Linked DNA regions of Homo sapiens: region 1 is linked to region 2. The links come from fine-mapping of genetic effects on gene expression. Tissue or cell type: lymphoblastoid cells. Region 2 holds a variant in brackets; the other region holds the start of a gene. All regions are shown on one strand. Distances are from middle to middle.

Region 1 (5,389 bases), 12 kb after region 2:
AAATAAGTACATGTAAAGATGCTCAACATTGGTTGTCATTAGGTATATAAAAATTAAAATAATAATGAGATAACATTGTACATGTATTAAGAGGGCTAAAAACCAAAATATGCTAATACTAAATACTGGTTAGGATGAGGAGCAACAAGAACTCTCATTCATCACCGGAGAAAATGCAGAATGGTACAACCACTCTGATGGATAACTTAGCAGTTTCTAACAAAGCTAAACATATTTTTACCTTGTAATCCAGCAGCTGGGTTCTTAGATATTTACCTAGATGATTTGAGAAATTTTAACTACAGAAAACTTTCACATGAATGTTTATAGAATTTTATAAAATTATCACCAAAAACTGAAAGCTATCAAGATGTTCTTCAACACAGAAATGAATAAACTCTGGTATATCCATACAATGAAATACTATTCAGAGATAGGAAAGAATGAGCTATCAAGCTGTACAAGGACATAGATGATTCTTAAATGTGTATTGCTAAATGAAAGAAGCCAGCATGAAAGGACTGCTGCATACTGCATGATTATATTACATTCTGGAAAAAGCAAACTTATAGAGAGGGTAAAGATATCATTTGAAAGCAGCCTGGGCAAGATGGCAAGACCCTGGCTCTACAAAAAAAATTAAAAATTAGCTGGGCATGGTGGTGCACACCTGTAGTCCCAGCTACTTGGGAGGCTGAGGCAGGAGGATCCTTTGAGCCCAGGAAGTAAAGGTGGCAGTGAGCCATATATATGGTGCCACTGCACTCCAGACTGGGAAACGAAGCAAGACCCTGTCTCTAAAAATGAAAAAATAAAGAAAATAAAGATATCAGTGGTTTCTAGAGGTTCACAGACACAGATTTGAGTAGGTGAAGCACAAGAGATTGCCTAGAGTGGTGAAACTATTCTGTATGATACTGCAATGGTGGATAGATGATATTATGCATTTATCAAAACCCATAAAAGTCTAGAGCACAAAAACTTAACCGTAATGTATGAAAATTTTTAAAAAATTATTTAGGAGGTTAGGAGATCCCAGATACAAGGTAAACTGTGACTATACAACCATCCAATCTTCAACAAGGCCAACAAAAACAAGCAACAAGGAAAGGACACTCTATTCAATAAATGGTGCTGGGATAACTGGTTAGTATGCAGAAGATTGAAACTGGATCCCTACCTTTCACCAGATACAAAAATTAACTGAGGATGAATTAAAGACTCAAATGTACGCTCTCAAACTATAAAAATCCTAGGAAATATCCTTCTCAACACTGGCCTTGGCAAAGAAAATTTGGCTAAGTCCCCAAAAACAATTGCAGCAAAAACAAAAATTGACAAGTGGGACCTAATTAAAGAGCTGCTGCACAGCAAAAGAAACTACCAATAGAGTAAACAGAAAACCTACAGAATGTGAGAAAATATTTGCAAACTATGCATCCAACAAATGCCTAATATCCAGAATCTGTAAGGAACTTACAACAAGCAAAAAACAGAATACATTAAAAAATGGGCAAAGGACATGTACAGACACTTCTTAAAAGAAGACATACAAGCGGCCAACGAACATGAAAGAATGCTTGTCATCACTAATCATCAGGGAAATGCAAATCAAAACCACAATGCTATATCATCTTAAACCAGTTACAATGGCTATTACTCTACAGTCAAAAAACAACATATGCTGGCGAGTCTAGAGAAAAAGGAACATTTATACACTGTTGGTGAGAATGAAAATTAGTTCAGCCACTATAAAAAGCAGTTTGGAGACTTTTCAGAGAACTTAAAACAGAGGTACCATTCAACTCAGCAGTCCCACTGAGACGAGAAGTCTTCTTCTGATGGAAGGTTTTTCTCAATGGAAGCGTTCGTGTCTCACGGGCTTCAAGGAATGAAGCTGTGGACCACAGCAGCGAGTGTTACAACTTGATTAGAGAAACGGGCGGACCCAAAGAGTGTGCGGCTGCAAGATTTGTTAAAGTGAAAGCAAAAGTAAAGTGAAAGCGAAAGTAAAGCTTCTGCGTGGTGGAAGGGGACCCAGAAGGGTTGCTGTTTCTGGCTTGGGTGTCTTATGCTTATATCGCCTTATGACCCCTCCCCTTTTCCTTTTTCTGTCCTATACAATTAGCTTATTTTCAACCCACTTGTGGGTTGATGGGCCTGATTGGTTAAAAACATCAGGCTGTAGCTAGACCTTAAACTCCCTATATGATTGGTTGAAGTTTCAATCCCTTAGCTTGCAGCTGTGACTCATTTTGGCTTAGGGGAAAGTCCCCTTTGATTGGTTGAAGTTTAAATCCCTTAGCTTGCAGCTGTGACTTATTTGGGTTTAGGGGATAGTCCCCTTAGGGAAGTCCCTATTGACCCAGGAAGTCCAGCCAACTTAGCCACTTAGTCCCTCACCATTACTGGGTATATAACGAAAGGAATTTAGGTCATCATACTGGAAAAAACACATGCTATTGTATGTACATTGCCACACTACTCACAATAGCAAAGACATATGTGATGGTTAATACTGAGTGTCAATTTGACTGGATTGAAGGATACAAAGTATTGATCCTGGGTGTGTCTGTGAGGGTGTTCCCAAAGGAGATTAACATTTGAGTTAGTGGGCTGGGAAAGGCAGACCCACCCTTAATCTGGGTGGCACAATCTAATCAGCTGCCAGGTGGCTAGAATATAAGCAGGCAGAAAAATGGAAAAGAGAGACTGGCCTAGTCTCCCAGCCTACATCTTTCTCTTGTGCTGGATGCTTCCTGCCCTGGAACATCCGACTCCAAGTTCTTCAGTTTTGGAACTCAGACTGGCTCTTCTTACTCTTCAGCCTGCAGACAGCCTATTGTGGAACCTTGTGATTGTGTGAGTTAATACTTAATAAACTCCCCTTTATGTATATATGTGTGTTCCATTAGTTCTTTCCCTCTAGAGAACCCTGATACAGATGTTGGTACCAGAAGTGGTCTTCTAGAGGAACAGAATATTAAGGATGTAGTTCTTTCATTGGTTTTGGAATTTCTGGTGTTGGCTGCTTAATATTAGACGCCAAAAATGCTAAGAACTCTACTTCTAATAGCATGGAGAACACTGATAATCCTTGGCATGAACTGTTCGAGAAATATGCAAAATAAATGCATTTGACACTCCTGATTCATCGCTCCTGAGAGGCAAGGATTTTAGTGACTCTACATGTAATACCTTTGACCATATGTGGAGAACCAAGGAACATAATGAAGCTGGTTGGTTGCTCCTAAGTTCAGTGGAAAAAGTGATGAAAGAAAATAATGAACTCAGGGATTCTATCTCCCGGCCTCAGAAGCAGATACTGAGCCTCAAATCTGCTAAGACTGCCCTGAGTGAGAGTCTTATCTTCCTGTAGAGAAAGAGCTGAAATTGTGGAAAAACAGACACAAACCCTTATCATGTAGGCTGACCTGTAATGAAAGATGCATGCACAGCCTCACCAGGTGTCCACTGTTAAAGTGAGCGCTTTGATTAGAAAAGAATGGGGCCCTGCAACTTGGAATGGGGACGTGTGGGAGGACCCTAATGAAGCTGGGGACACTGAGTTTGTAAACTCTGATGAAACTTTTCGGCCAGAGGAAACAGCTTCCCCATCCCCAGTAGAGACAATATCCCCTCCCTGACCCACACTGCCATCAGCCTTTCCACCTTTGTCTGAGGAGATAAACCCTGTGCTGCCTGAGGCAACAGTGATGGCCTCCCTTGAGGCAGTTTCCAGGCAAGGTAAAGTTGATTATCTTCAGGAGCCACCTCCAACACCCCTGTTTCCTTCTAGACCTATAACTAGACTAAAGTCCAGGCGAGCCTCTAGAGGTGAGGTTGAGAGTGTGACCCATGAGATGTTCTACACCCAAAAAGAATTGCTTGAGTTTAAACAGAAATCTGGAGAACAGGCATGGGAATGGATATTAAGGGTGTGGGATAATGGTTGAAGGAACATAGAGTTGGATCAGGCTGAATTTATTGATTTGGGCCCACTAAGTAGGGATTGTTCATTTAATGTTTCAGCTGGGGGAGTTAAAAAAGGTTCTAATAGTTTATTTGCTTGTTTAGCTAAAATATAGATTAAAAGATGGCCTACTACGAGTGAGCTAGAAATGCCTGATCTCCTTTGGTTTAATGTAGAGGAAGGGATCCAAAGGCTTAGGAAGATTGGGATGGTACAGTGGATTATTCACTTTAGACCTACTCATCCCAGCTGGCAGGGTCCAGAAGATATACCCTTGATCAATGCCTTGGGAAATAGATTTGTGAGGGCAGCACCTACATCTTTGAAGAGACCTGTAATTGCCCTTCTCTGTATGTCAGATCTAACAGTGGGAACCGTAGTCACTCAATACAAAATTTAAATACAATGGGAATAATTGGATCCCGAGGTGGCAGGGACCAAGTGGTGGCACTCAACCATCAAAGGCAAGGTGGGCATAGCTACTGTAATGGACAGCAGAGGCAAAGTGACGATCAGAACAGTCTGATTTGTGTAGAGCTCTGGCATTGGCTAATTAATAATGGTGTTCCTAGAAGTGAAATTAATAGGAAGCCTACTGCATTTTTGCTTAATTTATACAAGCAGAAAACTTCTAGGTCGAATGGACAAAAGACTAATTTGAATTATAAAAACAGAGAATCATGGCCCCTCAATCAATTTCCAGTCTTGAGCCAGTTTACAGACCCAGAACCCCTTAAATGAAGATGAGGCCAGGTCCCCTTGAGAAAGAACCCCACTACATTACTTACAATTTATGCTGTGAATCTTTCTCCCATCCTTCCCCAAAGAGACATCTGGCCTTTTACCAGGGTAATTGTGCATTGGGGAAAGGGAAATGATCAGACATTTTGGGGACTACTGTACACTGGCCTGAGCTGACGTTGATTCCAGGGAACCCAAAACGTCATTGTGGTCCTCCAGTTAAAGTAGGGGCTTACGGATGTCAGGTAATTAATGGGGTTTTAGCTCAGGTCCAATTTATGGTGGGTCTAGCGGGTCCCTGGACTCATCCTGTGGTCATTTCCCCAATGCCAGAATGCATAATTGGCATAGATACACTTAGCAGCTGGAAAAACCCCCCACATTGGCTCCCTGACAGGTAGGATGAAGCCTATTAGGATAGAAAAAGGCCAAATGGAAGCCATTACAGCTGCCTCTACCTAGAAAAATAGTAAATCAAAAGCAATATCGCATCTCTGGAGGGATTGCAGAGATTAGTACCACCATCAAAGACATAAAAGATGCAGGGATGGTGATTTCCACCACATCCCTGTTCAACTCTTATTTGACCTGTGCAGAAGACAGATAGATCTTGGAGAATGACAGTGGATTAGTGGATTTCCGTAAGCTTAACCTAGTGGTGACTTCAATTGCACC
Region 2 (5,389 bases):
TTGATTACAAATTTCCTGAGGCCTCCCCAAAAGCAGAAGCTGCTATGCTTCCTGGACAGCCTGCATAACCGTGAGCCAGTTAAACGTCTTTTTCTAATAAATGATTAGTCTCAGGTATTTATTTATGGCAATGTGAGAACAGACTAATACAACGATTTGTAACTGACCAAGTATGCATCAGGAGTGTCCATTCCCCACCGTCTCAGTTGTAGGTGCTGGGTCATACACAGTCAGATTTGACACAGAATCTCCTCTCTTCTACCCCACTAAGTGCTCAGAGGTCGTTTTGATCTTACAGTTAGTTTCTCAAGAATAAACTATAGATGAGCCTCACTCAGAGAAACTGGGTCACAGAGCAAATTCTCATGGCATTGGCCTATTGTCTAGGAGACAGGCTTAAGGGGGCTGTGGGGGAGGTTGGCACAGTGTTTTGACAAATGAGAGATTGACAGTGAATGTCTTAGAAGATTTATTCCACAAAGCTGTTCATCAGTAAAACAATGGTTTTTGCAGCAGATTTTTTTTTTCTCTATTGCCAGGTTCTTTTATAAAGCGTCCTTTCTCTGAGACCATCTTTCTGCTAGAAAAATCCTGATATTCATGTGCTCTTCCTTTAGATATCTTCCTCAGACTCCACTTCTTTCCAGCTAAAAGTCATTTGCTTCTTGACACACACATACACACACACACACACACACACAAATGCATTCTTCTCGTTTCTGTCATAATAGCACTGGAAAACCCATCAGCAACCTGAATAAAAATCCATTAAAACCACAGTTCAAATCATGAGTGACAGAAAAATATTTAAAAAGGTTTTCCCTCTCATAAAGGGCAATGATGGCTAAATAATTGTGCAGTTGATACTTATTGGTGAGGAAGAGAGATACGTACTCTACCCCTAGGAAGAGAGCTACACAGCCCAACCAACCATTCCCACATGCGACCCCAAAATGGGCTGAATTAAATATCTCTGATAAAGCTAACAAAGGAAATGGAATATATAATTTGGCACTTATAGTCTTCTAGTGCTACACATTAGTGTATATACAAAATTTTGCTAAGGAAATATCAAAGGCTTTCATTTCAGTCTCTGAGTCTACATTTTTGACTTCTATGGCTTAATACTTTGTCAATACATGACTTTTAGTTTTCTTAAGTTTCTTATGTCACAGAATCAATGCTTAGTGAAGACTTGTAGAAAGGTTGAAAAAAGGCTTAAGGTTTTTAGTACCAAAAGCTATTTTTTAATATGTTATACTAGCCAAAGAATTTGTCCTAAAAGCATTTATTATCTGTTCCAGGATTCATAAATACCCATTATAATTTTATTGAATTCAGCATATTTTTAAAAATTGAAAAGATGCAATTTTTCTATTTATAACCTAAATACAATCTGTGCATTTAAAAAAGAAAAAAAAAAACAACAACACTTCAAAGACAAGCTGTAGAGGTAATTTAGTCTGTCTGTATTTAAAATGAGCCAAAAGGAAAAAACTACCCAAATACAATTGGCTAATTGCTTTCAATTTGGCTTTATTTCCTTGACACTAATGGAGAAATTCTAACACCTACACAGCTAATGAGTTGGGAAGTTATGAGCTTTTTCTGAGTATGGATATCAAGTTGGGGGAGAAAAAGTTTATTCGCTGTTCAGAGAACAGCAAAGACTGAACAGACGTCATCTATGTCTGTATTTCAGTCTGTTATGTGTCAGGGTGTGTGACCTAGGATCTTGTAGTTTGAAGTGAAACATGGGGGTGCAAAAATATATTGTCAATCTACTGTGCTTAATGTCATGAAAAATGTTCCATCAGAGCCATAGAATAGTCATCTATACAGCAACAATGATGAACAACAATAGCAATAATTGTTAGTACCAACTATGAAATTTTTTTTTATTTTATTATTATTATACTTTAAGTTTTAGGGTGCATGTGCACAACGTGCAGGTTTGTTACATATGTACACATGTGCCATGTTGGTGTGCTGCACCCATTAACTCGTCATCTAGCATTAGGTATATCTCCTAATGCTATCCCTCCCCACTCCCCCCACCCCACAACAGGCCCCGGTGTGTGATGTTCCCCTTCCTGTGTCCATGTGTTCTCATTGTTCAATTTCCACCTATGAGTGAGAACATGCGGTGTTTGGTTTTTTGTCCTTGCGATAGTTTGCTGAGAATGATGGTTTCCAGCTTCACTCATGTCCCTACAAAGGACATGAACTCATCATTTTTTATGGCTGCATAGTATTCCATGGTGTATATGTGCCACATTTTCTTAATCCAGTCTATCATTGTTGGACATTTGGGTTGGTTCCAAGTCTTTGCTATTGTGAATAGTGCCGCAATAAACATACATGTGCATGTGTCTTTATAGCAGCATGATTTATAATCCTAAATATTCTTTATATCCAGGTTCCTTGCTAAGTGCTTTGTAATGTGTTACTCCTTGAGTTCTCACTGAAGAATATAGGTGCAATTGTCCTTACTCTAGTTGAAATCAATTATAATGATCTCTGAGGTAAATATTTTTTCATAGTAAGTGGAAGATCCAGGATTCACTATCATATTTGCCTCAATCCAAATCCCATGTTTCTAATCC[C/T]TAATCCACATCTGCTTACTTAGCCACTGGGGAAGTTTTCCGGAGGAGATACAAGATAGCTAAGTCTGAAAAGTAAAATGAAATCAAGCAGACAAGGACAAGGAAGACGAGTAAGGAAGCTAAGTTAATCAGGAAGAATGTAATTTACACACCAAATGAGGGGAGGAAATTATGTTTTTATGAAAACCAAAGGAATTTTTTGTTATGTGATTACACATTGCATAGAGCAAGTTGCAGACATAAAACTGAAGAGACGGGCTGAGGCCAAATTGTTAGGGGTTCAAATGCCCAACAAGGAAGCTGGAGTTGTCTCAAGTCATAGAAAATTATAAAAGCTCAGATAGAGAAATTGCATGGATGGATTTGCATATTTGATGTGTGTTCCATCAGACCAAGTGGGAGGACATCTCACTGAGCCATTCTCAGGATATCTAATAGAGAAAATGGAGCAAATCTATGAGAAAAGAAGGACTTCACATCAAAATAAAATAAAATAAAATGGAAGAGTTACCAATGTGTTCACACATGAGCTCTGAAGATGGGTAAGGATTAAAAGTGGAATTTTGAAAATCCTCCGTGTAGGAGGCCACAGTTGTACCTGGCTTAGGTCTCAGCAGTGGCTCCCTTGTGTGGTGCAGGACTGTGATTTGGCCTCTGGTCTGCCTGAGGTTGTCTCACTGTTTCAGACAATGAGGCAGAGCCTGGGCATGCTGGGCCTGCCTCACTCTTGGGCATCTGTACTTGGTTCCATTTGACATGTTCAGTCTATACACAGCTTAACAAAGTACTTGTTCTAAGTCAAAATGACTCCTACTTCAGGACTTGGAATCTTCGTTTTCCTTCCAATATGGTTTGGCTGTGTCCCCGCCCAAATCTCATCTTGAATTGTAACTCCCACGTGTCATGAGTGGAACCCAGTAGGAGGTGATTGAATTATGGTGGCAGGTCTTTCCTGTGCTGTTCTCATGATAGTGAATGAATCTCACGAGACCTGATGGTTTAAAAACAGGAGTTTCCCTGCACAAGCTCTCTTTTTGCCTCCTGCCATCCATGTAAGACACGACTTGTTCCTTCTTGCCTTCCACCATGACTGTGAGTCCTCCCCAGCCATGTGGAACTGTAAGTCCATTAAACCTCTTTTTCTTTGCAGTTTCAGGTACGTCTTTATAAGCACCATGAAAGCAGACTAATGAGCCTTCCTACTCCCTACTATAGTTAATGCCTTTTCAAACTGCATATATTAGCTCCAGCACATATATTCAAGGATGGCATTCTTCCCCACTTCCCCAATCAGATGACAGACCCCACACCTACCCTCATAGTCCCACAGTTCCCTATACTGTTCTTCCAAAGTACTAATCACAAGTTCTAATGGTATTTGTAAGAGATTATTTGATGAATGCCTACCTCTTCCACTATACTGCAGCTCTCTGAAGGAAGGGCAATATATGTAGTGTTATTAAATGTGCCTCACAAACCTAGTACATTTCCTGGAACCCAGTATGGACTTAATATATATTCATTAAATGACAGAATGATTTTCCCATTGGTGCCATCTCATTTGACACCATAAAATGAGAATTATACCTTACAAGCTGTGACTTCATTGGTATCTCCCTCATGGTTATATTTTTTTAAAAAAAATCAACTTGAGGATTTAATTTAAACATTGCAGCAAACATCCTTTTGGGGATTTTCATAGTTTGGTCATTCATTCACTCATTCATTCCACAAACAATAATTGAGCACAATGGCTTCCTCTCCAGGGCTCTGTTAGTTCTGTCCACTCTCCAATCTCAGCATTCTACATTTTTTTTCAACAAACTAATCCTACCAGCTGAAAATAAGATGCCAGTATGCCAGTCCCTTGTGGTTTTTACTAAAAATTGCCTGCAAAATGAGACACAGTCCTTTCATGATTTTCATTAGAGAGCAAATTGCTTGTGATACCTTTGGCAGAAATTAAATGGATGTATAGAGGCAGTGCCATCTTATTACGCAGTTGAATTTTTGAGAAAAGAATGGGGTTTGTCAGACCCAAAGTTTCGCTGTTGCTTTAAAAAAATGGCATCAATGATCTCTCAAGTTACTGCATGAGGACACCTAGTCTGAGTGTCTAGTGACAGTTTTTACAAAGAATTTTACCCTGTAATGGTTACACCTGCCTTATTATTGTTTCAAGTGGTTGCAAGGAAGTGTTTTCTTCCTCTTATTTCAAAGGAAACAAAAATATTTTAGAGGTTTGGTATTTGGACATTTCTTTTTTCTTCAGTTCAAAATCCTAGCAAAGAGCGATAATTTGTGGTGTGTTGAAATGAAATGCTGCAATTGAAAGTTGCTTTTGCAGTTTCCCCAATGTGTCATGCTGATGCTAACCTTTTCATAAGGCAATGCTTTGAGGAACTTTGATTGTTAAACAGTGCACTCTGAGCTGAAAGGAGAATTTTGGAGGAATGATGGGCAAAACTGTTTACATATATTTATCTAGAGCATTTGGTGAGTATAATGAATCATATTGAAGTACAGCACTTGTTTAAAATGTTACATACTGTAACATGGGATATTAGTATTTAGAATTGCTCACATGGTTTATGTATCTATATTGTTTTTATGATTGGCACTCTTCAAGAAAGGCTTGAAGTAGGCTTTGCCTATTCTTTACCAATCACCAGATACTATTGTTTACAATGTACTTTAGTCTACACAAAAATGGACTTTACACTATACTTTAATCTGTAGAAAGATGATCCATCAAGGCAGGAGTTCTTAGCTTTAACAGCAGA

Alleles and levels. Positions count from the first base shown, and alleles are read on the strand shown. Sizes are in standard deviations (SD) of each study's normalised expression.
For the expression in lymphoblastoid cells of the gene that starts at base 1,982 in region 1, T is the low allele of the variant in region 2 and C is the other (large effect, 0.82 SD a copy in GTEx).

What was found. PIP is the estimated chance that this variant, and not a neighbour inherited with it, causes the effect.
Region 1: LINC02328 starts here. The variant in region 2 is the best candidate, but not a certain one, in a credible set for the expression of LINC02328 in lymphoblastoid cells (GTEx, PIP 0.66).

The regions. Positions count from the first base shown.
Region 1 is chr14:85,931,271-85,936,659 of GRCh38, reverse strand. LINC02328 (long intergenic non-protein coding RNA 2328) reads right to left here and starts at 1,982. Exons shown (of 4, transcript NR_110155.1): 1 at 1,799-1,982. RefSeq lists enhancers at 1,868-2,077, 2,448-2,497.
Region 2 is chr14:85,942,971-85,948,359 of GRCh38, reverse strand. The region is part of intron 1 of LINC02328 (long intergenic non-protein coding RNA 2328); the gene reads right to left. Among named protein-coding and RNA genes, the nearest start is that of LINC02328, 11 kb to the right of the region's middle. The variant C/T (reference allele first, on the strand shown) is at 2,607.